Regions from separate parts of the Homo sapiens genome. Here all the other regions are linked to region 3. The links come from fine-mapping of genetic effects on gene expression. A gene starts in region 3. Each other region holds a variant in brackets. All regions are shown on one strand. Distances are from middle to middle.

Region 1 (4,159 bases), 45 kb before region 3:
ATCTACCCATCTTGGCCTCCCAAAGTACTGAGATTGCAGGTGTGAGCCACCACGCCGGCCTTCTTTTCTTTTACTGGTTTCTTTAGGTTTATAATACAGATCTTTAACTTGTCACAGTCTATCTTCAATTAATATTTTATTACTTCATGTATTATATAAGAAATTTACATCAGTGTTTTTTTTTCCTTCCTGGCCATTGTGTTATTATTTTCATACATTTTACTTCTACAATGTTGCTATTATTTTTGCTTTAAATGTAGAGGATGCCACCACTGAATTTCTTAGTGATGTTGATGCCTCTGTCACTACTCATTTCTGATGGCCTTGGTGAATGGTGGGTGGGTCCCCTGGGCCCTCTGAGGGAACACAATCCTTTGGAAGATGTCTCCTGGCCCCTCATAATATGTCAACCCCAGCACGCCCATTTCCCTGAGCCTTTTAATTCTTTCCTCTATCATGCAGCATAGGAATTCAGCCATTTCAACTGTACTTAGCGTAAGTCATCACTTCTTCCAGATGTTTGGAGCCACTAAGCCAGTTTGCACCAGCTCTCAGGATCCTCACCTGGGTATTAAATCTCGTATCACAAAAGAATGGCCCCAAGTCAATAAATTCTTCATTGTTTAGGCTCCTGTTATGGCTTCCTTGATTAAGCACCCTCAAATCCACTCCCAGAGTTCTCCCGTGATCCTGCTGTCACATGATCCTAGTTTTTCGGATCCTTTGGACTATAGTCTCTTTATTTCTTTATCAGATATGGCACATCCCCAACTGAGTTACACTGCAACTTAACATGACATCAGCCTGGAGGCCAAGAGAAGAGGCAGAAATAAATCCTGAGTAGGGCCCCTGCTGCAGGAGAGAGAATTCTTCAGTGTCTTCCCATATGGGATAGGAGGTGGGGAGAGAAGTTACTGGATCTTAATAGGAAGGAGGCCAGGCCTGTCTATGGGCTCTGAGGGTCCAGAGGAGTTTGGAAGTCAAAACGTTTGAGGGCATCCACCCAGATGTACCCAATCCATATTGCCTGGGATAATATGGGATGAGGATGGGTTCAAGGCAGCTGGATGGTAAGTGATTCAACCCCAAATCCCTAATTTACTGACCGCTTTTTTTTTTTTTTAAGAGATGGGGTCTTATTGTGTCATTCAAGCTGAAGTACAGTGACACAATCATAGCTCACTGCAGCCTTGAACTCCTGGGCTCAGGCAACAAGCAGTACAGAAAGCCTGCATTTAAACACTGGCGACACAGAGACCATCATTGGCTGCATTACATCAGCACCAGTGATACAGACAACTGTCACTTTTCTTCTTCTCTCTCTGCTCCAACTCTGAGGGATCTAGCAACTCCCCAGTTCGGGGAAGGAAGGGAAGGAAGGTGAGAGATGGACAGTGCCTGCTCTGCAGGCGTAAGTAAGGCCTGCGCTGCACCCAGGGGAGAAGCTTTGAGCTGGATGTGAGGTTGAGGTTTCTATTTAGATTCTACTTGTCTCCTGAGTTCAGAAAATGAGGCAGAGTTGTCAAAATGGGATTAGTCAGCACAAGCGACAGGAAAGCTAATGGGATTTGTTTGAGGTTATTTTAAGGGACAAAGGCTGAGGAACCATCAGAGTGTGTATAAAGGCAGAGAAGGTTCAGGTTGAGTTAACAGCGCTGTGGCTGGCGGAAGGACGCATTTGCTCCTGGCCACAAGAGGAGCGTGGAGCCCCATGTGAGCAGAGGCTGGGCCACCCCCGGGACCAGCTCTGCCAGAGGGTTCCAGCAAAAACTGTGACGTCCCCTCTCACTCTGATGCATGTAGAGAGGCCTGAAAAGTTTGCCCAACCACACAGAGAATGTTTGAAGCCTTCTGTGACCAGGAGCTACCTCCCAAGGCAGCCTCATCTATTTTTGGACATCATGTTAGAAAGTTTTCCTAAACTGGCTTGAAATGTTTCCCTAGTTTTGCATCTACAGCCTTGCAGATCAAGCCCACTCCCTTTGGACATTGAAACACAGAGAACATGGCCTCCTCAAATTTATTCCCTGCTCCAGAAGGTCACGGCCACAGCCTCCTCTCTCCTTCACCACCTTAGGTGCAACAGCAGTCAGGTAGAGTCGGTGCTGTGTGATCGCACTTATTTAACATTTATTTTGAGTTAGGGTGTGAGTGCTGGGGCAGGTGACTAACCATCCCCTGCCCTCTGTGGTGGCCTGAGAGAGAAGCAGGAATGCCCCGTGCAGGTTGGGGATCAGCAAACAGTCTAGACCAGCTTCTCTCCTGTATCCCGTTTGGAGAGTCCCTGGGTCAGGGGCCAGTCCATCCTGCAGCATTGAAGGGCGTGAGGAATGAGCAGGGCTGTGGGGCTCACAGAGCAGGCAGCTCTGGGGAGAAGCGGCCAGGGAATGTGCAAAAGTGATCAAGTCATAGGACAGGGTGGACCCAGCCCCAACCTGGGGGAGAGGAGAGGGGGATGTGCTGGAGCC[T/C]GGAGGTCCATGTCTGGCAGCCTTGGGAGATGGAGAGGGTTTCCCAGGCCGGACAGCATGGGCGGGGGGTTCATTCCATGGTGAGCTCTCCCTGCTCCGTGTTGTCCAAGTTTGTACGGGAGGCCACCAGCGCCCTTCATTCGGCTACATCGATGGACAACATGGCCTTGATTGCAGGGAACTTGTTGCAGGAGAAGTCGGCGAGCAGTTGCTTGGTGCCACTCCGGGAGGGCAGGATATCAAAACGGACCCGGGACCCCTCCTTGGGCCCTAGGGTCGGCACGCTGATGGGGAGGGCACAGATCAGTGTTGATACGAGACACACGGACCTTGGGCTGGACGGGCCTCCTGTGACCTCCTGTCCTGTTCTGATGGAGGCTGGGCAAGGCCACTGCTTCTTTAGCTCCCTCTAGCTGTCTCTCTGGGTTACGGGGCCCCTCCAGCCCTGGAACTCTTCAGCAGGGGAAGCAGGAGGGGGGGGTCCCATGATCTCCCAAATATTCTAAGCCCTGAAGGCCAGCTCTTAGCTCTGGTGACCTGTTCTTCTCAGGAGTTCAAGTTTGGTGAACCCCCAAACCAAATGCAAAAGCAGATTCTAGAGTTCCAAGACCCCCAAAAGAGTAAAGAACCCAAGGTCAGAGGGAGCTCTGTCTGTCCCACCCAGGGGATCTGGAGGGCCCCCCCGCCCCCTCCCGCCCTCCTGCACCGGCCACTTAGGCCCAGGACTCACTCGATCTTCAGGTTACCCAACAGCAGGCCGCTTCCCTCCACCATCAGCACGCAGTCCCTCACCGGCTCATCCAGTGGATTGGAGAAGAGCATCTGCACGTTCACAGGCTTCCGCACACGAGCCTCGTTCAGCACCTATGGGGGAGAGGGGCTGCCGAGTCAGGACTCCAGCTGCTCAGCCCCTGCCTGCACCTTGGTGAGGGCTGGGCAGGGTGACTGAGTGAAGGGGGTGATGTCACTGAGGATGAAGAAGGGGAGACCATTTAGCCCTCCTAGGTGCCAGGCACATTGTGTCTGACGCCCCCTGCCCCCCAATACACAGGATGGTCCCAGGACATTATCCTGTGCTGTGGATGAGAACCTCAGCTTTGAGGGGGAAGGGGCCCCCTGCAGCAGCCAACAACACTGTTACTTCCCTGCCCCGACTCCAGTTCAGACCCTGCTTCCCAGGACAGCCCAACCCCACTGTGGGCTCTGTGAGGGTCAGGACATTTTTCATGCTGAATTTATTTTTTGCAAGGACAGGGTCTTGCTGTGTTGCCCAGGCTGGCCTCGAACTCCTGGCCTCAAGTGATCTTCCTGCCTTGGCCTCCCAAAGCACTGGGATTACAGATGTAAGTCACTGTGCCCAGCCACTTGCTGGGTTTAATATTACTTTCCTTGGCTTTCCTGCTTATGGGTCCTGTTTCTTCCCTTAAAGCTTGAACCTCCGTCTCTGGGAGGCCCCACAGGTGTTGAAAAGGGCAGCCCCAGGCCCCACAGCTGCTCACACCCTGGCTCACACTGTAGCTCCCTTAACTCTTTTTCCAGGGGTTGGGTCCCCCCAGCTCAACCCAGGCTACTCTCCTCTGCTGACACCCCAGTCTACCAATGTCCTTCTAAACTTCTAGAGCCCAGAGGTTCCCTGTGCACCATTTATAGTCTGAGCGGAGCTCTAATACCACACGGTCCTTGCTCAGTGA
Region 2 (4,197 bases), 57 kb after region 3:
AGAAGAGAGAAAGAAAAAAGAAAGAAAGAAAGAAAAAGAGGGAGGAGGGAGGGAGGGAGGAGGGAGGAAAGAAGGGAGGAAAAAGACGGAAGGAAGGAAAAGAAAAAAGAGAAAGAAAGAGGGAGACAGAAAGGGAGGGAGGGAAGGAGGGAGAGAAAGAAAGAAACAAAGAGGGAGGGAGGGAAGAAGGAAGGGAAGGAAAGAAGGGAGGAAGGAGGAAAAGAAAGAAGAAAGGAAGAGAAAGAAGAAAGAGAGAAAGAAAGAAAATGAAAGGAAGAAGAAAAAAGGAAGGAAGGGAGGGACGGAAGGAAAGAAAGGAAGAGAAAGAAGAAAGAGAGAAAGAAAGAAAATGAAAGAAAGAAGAAAAAAGGAAGGGAGGGAGGGAAGGAAAGAAGGAAGGAAGGAGAGAGAGAGAAAGAAAGAAAAAGAAAGAAAGAAAGGAAAAAGAAAGAAAGAAAAAGAAAACTTTGAGAAGATGACTACATTTTCCAAGTGAGCTGATGAGCCGCCGCTTGTAGGAGGGTGCCTTGATTCTCCCATTTGTAGATAACAACACTGAGGCTCAGAGAGTTGGAACGATTTACCTAAGGGTCACATAAACATGTTTTTATCTATGTCAGTCAGTGTCTTCCCCTCAGAAATTAGATTTGACTTTATAATTTATTCTCACTTAATTTCCTAGTACAGTTGTAACGGATTTTAAGTTAATAGCTTTTTCTCTTCTCTTTCCCTTTTTGCTTTCACTTATCAAAATTGTCACAAATCTTCAACACCCCAAAAAAGGCATACTATTTCTTCACGGAGAGGTGGAAAGAACATGAATATTGGAATGAGACAGACTCGGGTTTGAATCTAGGCTCTGCTTCTCATTAGCCAGGCAACTTTGGGCAAAGAACTTAATTTCCATGAGACTTAATGCATTTGCAAAGTAAGGTCAATAATATCTATTAATGCCTTCTAAAGTTATGAAAATGAAGGATAATATATGTGGAGCACCTGGCTCTGTGCTTGGCGCCTTGTAGACACTTTATAAATGATAGCTGAGTGTTGTTGTAGTTATTGTCATCATTACTATTATTAATAAGTTGAAACAGGAGGATAAAGAACCACAAATTTTGTGGGTTTTTTTTTTTTTTTGAGATAGAGTCTTGCTCTGTCGCCCAGGCTGGAGTGCAGTGGTGCGATCTTGGCTCACTGCAACCTCTGCCTCCTGGGTTCAAGCGAGAATCACAAATTTTGGCTGTGTTACCTATCACTTGGTAAGCGCTAGTGAAACTGGACTGGCAGGTCACTTGTGAAGCCAGCATCAAAAGGTCTTTCCCTCAAGAGACCACAAAAACAAAATATTGAAGTCAGCAACTTCCACTTCTGAGGTGAGGCATTGAGTAGATTCAACAGTCCCATCCAGGTGTGACATTTCTTTTTAGCATCAGCTTCACTGCTCATGACTCACTAAACTTGGAGACAAGGGATAGGAATTACTGAATTTGTCATAGCATCTCATGAATGAATGTGTATGGTAAGGACAAAAGGGGCTGAGAACCAAGCCCTGTATTGGGGTGGGGAAGGGAAAATGAAGAACTTAAAACTTCAATAAAGAGAATGAGGAAGGATCTGAATCAAGCAAAGTACAGGGGCGAAACCTGCCAGCTTGTGATCGAGTCATGGCGAGAGCTTCTTAACTCAGTTACGTCTAAAAGAAACACCAATACTTGGCGTCAGTCTTCAGTAGATAAGAAATGTGGGGGAAAAAAA[T/A]AATAACCAGGAAAGACACAGGGTCAGAGAGCTGGGAGGGAGCTCAAGGTCACCAGTGTAGTCATTTTTATACTGTGGCCCCAAGTCTTCAGAGGTGCTTCCGAGACACCACAGATCCTGAAGGATTCCTTGCCAAGAGGATGGCTTGCTGTTTCGGGAACCTATACAAGCTTTTGTTCTGTTTTTGTTCCAGTTCTAAAGAATTTAAACACCAGTGTTATATACCAATGCCTGTCTTTTACAGACGAGAACCTGAAGTCCAGAGAGGAAAATTAACTTGCTCAAAGTAACACAAGGGAAGGCTTGGGCCTTCAACCCGTAAGTCTTGCTCTATCCCCAAATAGGAATGTGAGACAGACACACTGGCTATTCATTCCAGTTTATACATGATGCCAGATGTGGGGCTCTACCTCGCCTAAACTTAAAGGAACTCTTCTTTTTTCTGGAGACAGGGTCTCACTCTGTTTCCCAGGTTGAGTGCAGTGGCAGAATCACAGTTCGCTGCAGCCTCAACCTCCTGGGCTCAAATGATCCTCCTGCCTCAGCCTCCTGAGTAGCTGGGACTACAGGCATGTCCCACCACGCCCGGCTAATTTTTTATTTTTTGTAGAGACAGGGTCTCTCTACGTTGCCCAAGCTGGTCTCAAACTCCTGAACACAAGCGATCCTCCCTACTCAGGCTCCCAACATGCTGGGATTACAGGCATAAGCCACTGTGCCAAAGTCATAATGAGAGGCCTTCTCTTGTCATTAGGAGGTGAGGTTCAGTAGGGCTTCAATGTCTGGGCAGTGGAGGGTTCCTGCTTCCTGAAAGGCGACCTCTTAAAATAGCACTTGTTTATTTACACCAGGACTGACCTCTCATCTCCAGCCTCCTGATCCATGCTGGTCTGGCCCAGTTCCCTGTTACTTTCCAGCTCTCACCTTTCTGCCCCTCTAGGCTTGTCTTGGGCCCATAAACTATAGGATTGAGTGAGAAGTGCCCGGATTTCTCCATTCCCTGTTTTACTGGCTGTCATTGGGCCTGAATGGGCTCCACCTCCTTGGAATTCCCTAATGCAGCTAATTGATTCCATTCATAAGAGTCCCCAAGTTCTTAAAGCTGGAAGAAAATTTTGAGACCATTTCATTGAGTCTCCTAATTTTATAGATGAAGAAACTGAGGTCCGTGTGATTCACACAAAGTCACGTGGTCATATCAGGATTCAAATTCATGTTTTGTAATTCTACATCCAACACCCTTTCCGATAGCCATACCATCATTCTCCCATTTAATTCAATTCAGTTTAAATCAAAACATACCTGTGGAGGCTGGGAGTGGTGGCTTAGGCCTATAATCTCAGCACTTTGGGAGGCTAAGGCAGGTGGATCACCTGAGGTCAGAAGTTTGAGACCAGCCTGACCAACATGGTGAAATCCCATCTCTACTAAAAATACAAAAATTAGCCGGGCATGGTGGTGGGTTCTTGTAGTCCCAGCTACTCGGGAGGCTGAGGCAGGAGAATCGCTTGAACCTGGGAGGCAGAGGGTGCAGTGAGCCCGTAGTTCTAGCTACTGAGGAGGCTGAGGTGGGAGGATTGCTGGAGCCCAGAAGGACGAGGCTACAATGAGTCGTGATTGTGCCACTACACACCAGCCTGGGTGACAGAATGAGACCACTGTCTCAAGAGGAAGGGAGGGAGGGAGGGAGAGAGGGGGGAAAGAAGGAAGGAAGGAAGGAAGGAAGGAAAGAAAGAAAGAAAGAAAGAAAGAAAGAAAGAAAGAAAGAAAGAAAGAAAGAAAGAAAGAAAGAAAGAGGAGTGAGCACATGGAAAGAACCTGGTTCCTGGATGGAATCATTCCTGAGCTGCCACCCCAGCCCTAGACTGCCTGTCCCCACACTTCTTGTTGCATGAAATAAAAGAATCCCTCTTTGGTTCAGCCAAATAGCAGCACTTCTCTTATATGCAGCTGAACACAATTGTGAATGGCTCATGGGCCTTGAAAAAGTCTTGGGATTTCAACAAACAGAGGCAGAAGACAGTGTCAGGAAACGCTCAAGACAGGGAAAGCTGGGGGCATGTTCTTGACAAAGCAGGCGGAGCAGATAGGGAGGTCAGAAGAGACGTTGTGATAGGGACAGAAGACCAGGGAGGCTCAGAGGATGGATGTGGATTTCATTCTGAAAGCAGGGAAGAATTGCTGGGGGAAGTGAGCAGTGCTGTTCTTGGGGAGTTGACGCTAGTTCCTTGGCACCGAGTGAGCCTTGGGCCCCCGGATGAGCAGGCAGGGCAGCTACTGAGGAGCCTGGAGTGAGAGTGGGTGGCCTATTTCATTCCAATCTGCTGTGCTTGTATTACATTCCTGTTAGCTTAGTATCTGCACAGAACACCAGGGACCGCAGTACCGCAAACTCTTTGGCATTCTGAAGGCCCTGCTCTCGCTGTGTCACTTTCCTCCCAC
Region 3 (4,168 bases):
AAGACTAATCTCCTTCTCTTGTTGGTCCCCGTAGCACTTGTTTTGTATTTGTCATGCAGCTTAATAACAGTCTGCCTTGCATGCTGCTCACCTAAAAAACCGGTGGTACCAAAAAATATCAGACTAAAAGCTACCGAGGACAGAACCACATCTCATTCACCTCCATATTTCCCACTGCACCTGGCACAGCTCTTCTCCCTTAGGTGTTCAGTGAATAAATTCATTCATCCAAGAAACACTGATTGGGAACTTCCTGGCTGAGTGACTCGGAGCTGAGCTGGGAACTGCAAGTGGGACAAATTTAAGGGACTGAATGTATTCGCCTGTCTCTCCACCACCTTTTCAAAATTGATTTTCTCCCCACCAGCCTCATTCTGTTGTGACTTTAGAACATCTCTGGTTGTTAACAGAGACATTTAATCATGCCTCACAGCGGGCAGGCCATTCCTGAGAGTCCACGGGAGGTCCTGCACAGGGATGGGAGGTGCACATTCCTGGGGGCTGGGCACGTGCCTGTCCACTCCCTGGCTCTGGTTTCTTTTTGTGGAGAAAGAAAAGTCGGTACTGGAAGGAACCTCAAAACGCATTCATTTCAAAGCTTTCATCTTGAAAACTTGAGGCTCAGGGGTGGCAGAGAACACACAAGCAGTTGGTCACAAAGCTCAAATGAGAAGCCAGGTTCAGAATTGCTTTTTTATGTTCCAGATGTTATGTGCACTTATGTAGGAGCTCAGCTCTGGCAGCAGGACATGGTGGAAAGGGCACTGCTGAGACCTAGCTGGCTCTGCGATGGATTCACTGTGTGTAAGGTTCCACCCCTTCCTGGGCCTCAGCCACCTCCTGGAGGGAGGGAGATGGGCTAGATGACATCTGACCTCCCCTCTTGCTGCAGTGTGTAGGGTCCAGAGCTCCTCTTCTTAGCATCCCAGCCATGCTGTACATTACAGCAAGGAATGGGAGACAGGGGAGGGGGCCTAATGTGCAATCACCTGTCCCAGTTTTTGTGGCTTCTGAAGTAGCCAGCATTTGCCTGTTGCATTTGGCTCAGTGATGTCTTTGGCCAATCTTCCAGCAGCCCTAATCGCCATTCACAATATTTTACAAGTTTGACTCATATCTTGTTTGGATTTGGCGTCCCTGTCAACCTACTAGGCTGAGCACACAAGACAGATAATAATTAGCATGCTGCTTAGCAGGGGTGCTGATTAACAAAGGCCCATATCCTCGACAGTAAGCATAGAGTGGGGGAACCTGCACTTCCTGTTGTTCTTTGTAACCCCTGTTCCCTGGTGCTCTCCTGTGGACCAGGACATCTTGTGGCACACCTGCTCCTGCTACGGGGAGGCTTCAGCTCATCAAGTCACTTACACAGAGCCTGTCTGATGCTTCTGATGTGTAGCTTACTTAGGAGCATTCCTAATGCTCCTAAGTAAGTTGATTTGAAATAAACAATGGTTTCTTTCAAATCAACTTACATGTTACCACTCTCACTCCCTGGTAGTTCTGAGATGTGCTTCTTTGCTGACACTGCTGACAGCTGGATACAGCTACACTGAGAAACACGAGACCCGAGTCCTGTCTGCTTTGGCTTTACGGGTGGCGACGGATGTGTAAAAGAAACGCAAACACAAACAAGGCAAAGCTTGTCCTCTGCCTAAGGAGATGCGATGTCCAGCTGCACTGAACACCCTGCCCATTATTCAGAGCTACATTCCAATGATGTTCTACCCCAAGAATATGCTAGAGGGACCCAACCACCACTGAGAAAGAGCCGCCTCTGGCTAGCACCCTAAAATAGGAAGTCTGGCCTTCAGAGCCCCCAAGGCAGGCAGCTGTCCTGGCCGGACACTCTGGCTTGGCAGGCTGGCCCAGGGGAAGCACAGGCTTCTGGCAAGGACCTGATGGAGAAGATGCCATGCACTCACCAGCCATGTTTCGCCTTCCTCTGCCTCTTCTCAGGCTCCTCTGGGAATGGCACGGACAGTGCTGACAGACAGGCTGCCAAGGATTGCCTTACCATTTATAGAATCCTCTCCTACACACCCCAATTAGAATTCTAATGAAGTGGGCGAGGCACCAGGTCATTCCTGTAGTGCCTGTAAACGTTTCACTTACGACAGACTTGTCACCCAATGGACGTGCATCATGTTTGTACAAGACCAGCTTGGGGAGAAGGGGGCAGATAATAAAGAAACTCAAATAGTTCGCTTTTATAATTTTATAAAATGATGGACTATTTCCTGGATTGTAGGGTTTAGGAAATGATGACATGCTTTTCTTGCTGATCCTGGGAAGTTCTCTCTGAATCAAAGAAACGTCTCAGCAGAACCCAGAAGAAGAAAATTGTGAGGTCCTTTCTCATGATACACATGTATTAGCATCTTCCACTTGCACAGGGAAGTGAGACACATCACAGTTCATTTGTTTAGGGTTGTAGTGTGGCATAAACCATCATTTGATTTGGAATTAGAAGCCGTTGGTTCTGATGCTGGCCGAGCCCTGGGTGGTCTCCAACCCTTGAAGCCCGGAAGCCTTGCTTGTGGTTGGGGATAATCACTCCCACCCCTCTCAACTCACAAAGCTGTGGACACGATCACATGAGATGGTGCGCATGGGAAGTGTATGCATATCTACCAGGGCAGGTTAAACTGAGATCACACTTGGCGTTGAATGTCAGTTTCAGTCCAGATTTGGGGGAAAATTGTTGTTTTTAATGAGGCAGCAGGAACAGCCTCTAACCTTATGCTTCTGCCATGTCTTTCTCAGACTGCAGGTTCCGTCACTGACCCTCACTGGGCCCACCTTGACATCAGTTTAAAGAAAGGGTGTGGAGTGGGGAGAAGCTCTGACATTCTACGTGTTTTTGTTTGCTTGCTTGTTTCTAAGGGCGTATGTTTTTTCAAAGTTCCTATTATCGATATTTACAAATATCAAGGTTTACGATGGACAAAGGAGTGAGTATATATTTTTTAAAGTGAGGCTTCAAGGATTCACGAGAGAACAGAAATGCCCCAAGGCTTTCCCCAGCATCACAGTGTGGAAGGAAGATTGAGCACCATGATGACAAGGTTGGGTCTTTAGAGAGAAGTGAGAATGTTTGATCTCGAGAAAGAGAAGACGGAATAGGCAGGTGGCTTGGAAAATTGAAAAAGAGAAATCAGTGTCCTTTCTCCGTCCTTTAGGCCCCTACAGCCTTTTGTACATCTTAGAACCTCTATTACCGTATGTATCCACTGCACTGGAACTATCTGTTTATATATGTCCCCATCTCCAGACTGAGCTCCTTGAAGGTACAGGTTGCATATCATTCAAATCTTCTTCTCAGAATCTAGCACAGGGCTTGACACGTGGCTGGAACATGCACATTCTTGAATAAGTGAATCAATATCACTGTAAAGATGGGAATCATAACTACCGATTTAGTGCTTACTAATAATAACTAATTGATTTAGTGTTTACTGTGGGCAGGCACTGGCTAAACACTTTACATATATTAGCTTTTCTCATCTTCATAGCAACCCTATGCAAAGGGGCTATTATTATTTCCATCTTATGGGGGACAGAGAGATTAACCTGAGTCTCCAACCACGAGATTCATACCCATATGTAAATGGCTCCAGAGCCTGTGTTTGCTTAACCTTGGAGGTCAGCGCCTAAATGAGGCAGCCTTTCCCAGGCCTCTGGGGCTCTAAGACAGCTGGCTGTGCACCCATGCCAGGCAGAATGGGATGCACTGTTGGCTCTGGCAGATGACTAAGAAAAGAGCAGAGGGTAGAGAGGGACATGGAAAGAGCCTGGACCCAAGAGGAGACTCATGTGTGGTCTTGGCTCCTACCACGGGCACTAGCTGTGACTCTGGGCGAGGCCTCATGACGCCAAGTTCATCCTGCCAGAAAGCTGGAGGACAGCTCCATGAATGGCATGGGATGAATGGGTGTGAAAGTGCTCTGTATGCTTCTGTGTGTGGTCTAAAGGAAAGGAGGGGTTTTGCTTATTATTGTGGTTGTTGCTGTTGGCCTGGGAGCCAAGGAAAATCAGACCCCGGGCACTCCTTTCAATGACCTGACAAGGAAAGCTGCAGAGGTGACAGGGAGGTGGTGCTCCCCTTAAAAGGGAACCTGAAGACACACAGTCTTGGCTCTGCCAAGTCTCCTCACCTCTCGTAGGC

Direction of the effects. Alleles are on the strand shown, and positions count from the first base shown. SD is a standard deviation of normalised expression in the study named. Not every link is listed here.
In carriers of allele T in region 2, the expression in esophagus mucosa of the gene that starts at base 1,995 in region 3 tends to be higher than with A alone (small effect, 0.11 SD a copy in GTEx).

What was found.
Region 1: its variant is fine-mapped to the expression of TGM3 in whole blood (TOPMed, PIP above 0.99).
Region 2: its variant is fine-mapped to the expression of TGM3 in esophagus mucosa (GTEx, PIP 0.94).

What each region holds. Positions count from the first base shown.
Region 1 is chr20:2,339,027-2,343,185 of GRCh38, reverse strand. TGM3 (transglutaminase 3) reads right to left here. Exons shown (of 13, transcript NM_003245.4): 12 at 3,199-3,332; 13 at 2,107-2,752. The coding sequence ends at 2,605. Among named protein-coding and RNA genes, the nearest start is that of TGM6, 40 kb to the left of the region's middle. RefSeq lists an enhancer at 3,001-3,501. The variant T/C (reference allele first, on the strand shown) is at 2,469.
Region 2 is chr20:2,237,223-2,241,419 of GRCh38, reverse strand. No RefSeq gene overlaps it. Among named protein-coding and RNA genes, the nearest start is that of LINC03086, 32 kb to the right of the region's middle. The variant T/A (reference allele first, on the strand shown) is at 1,756.
Region 3 is chr20:2,293,828-2,297,995 of GRCh38, reverse strand. TGM3 (transglutaminase 3) reads right to left here and starts at 1,995. Exons shown (of 13, transcript NM_003245.4): 1 at 1,926-1,995. The coding sequence starts at 1,932. It overlaps LOC105372503 (a long non-coding RNA gene), which reads left to right. Exons shown (of 3, transcript XR_937203.3): 2 at 706-804; 3 at 1,502-2,175. RefSeq lists enhancers at 225-757, 758-1,291.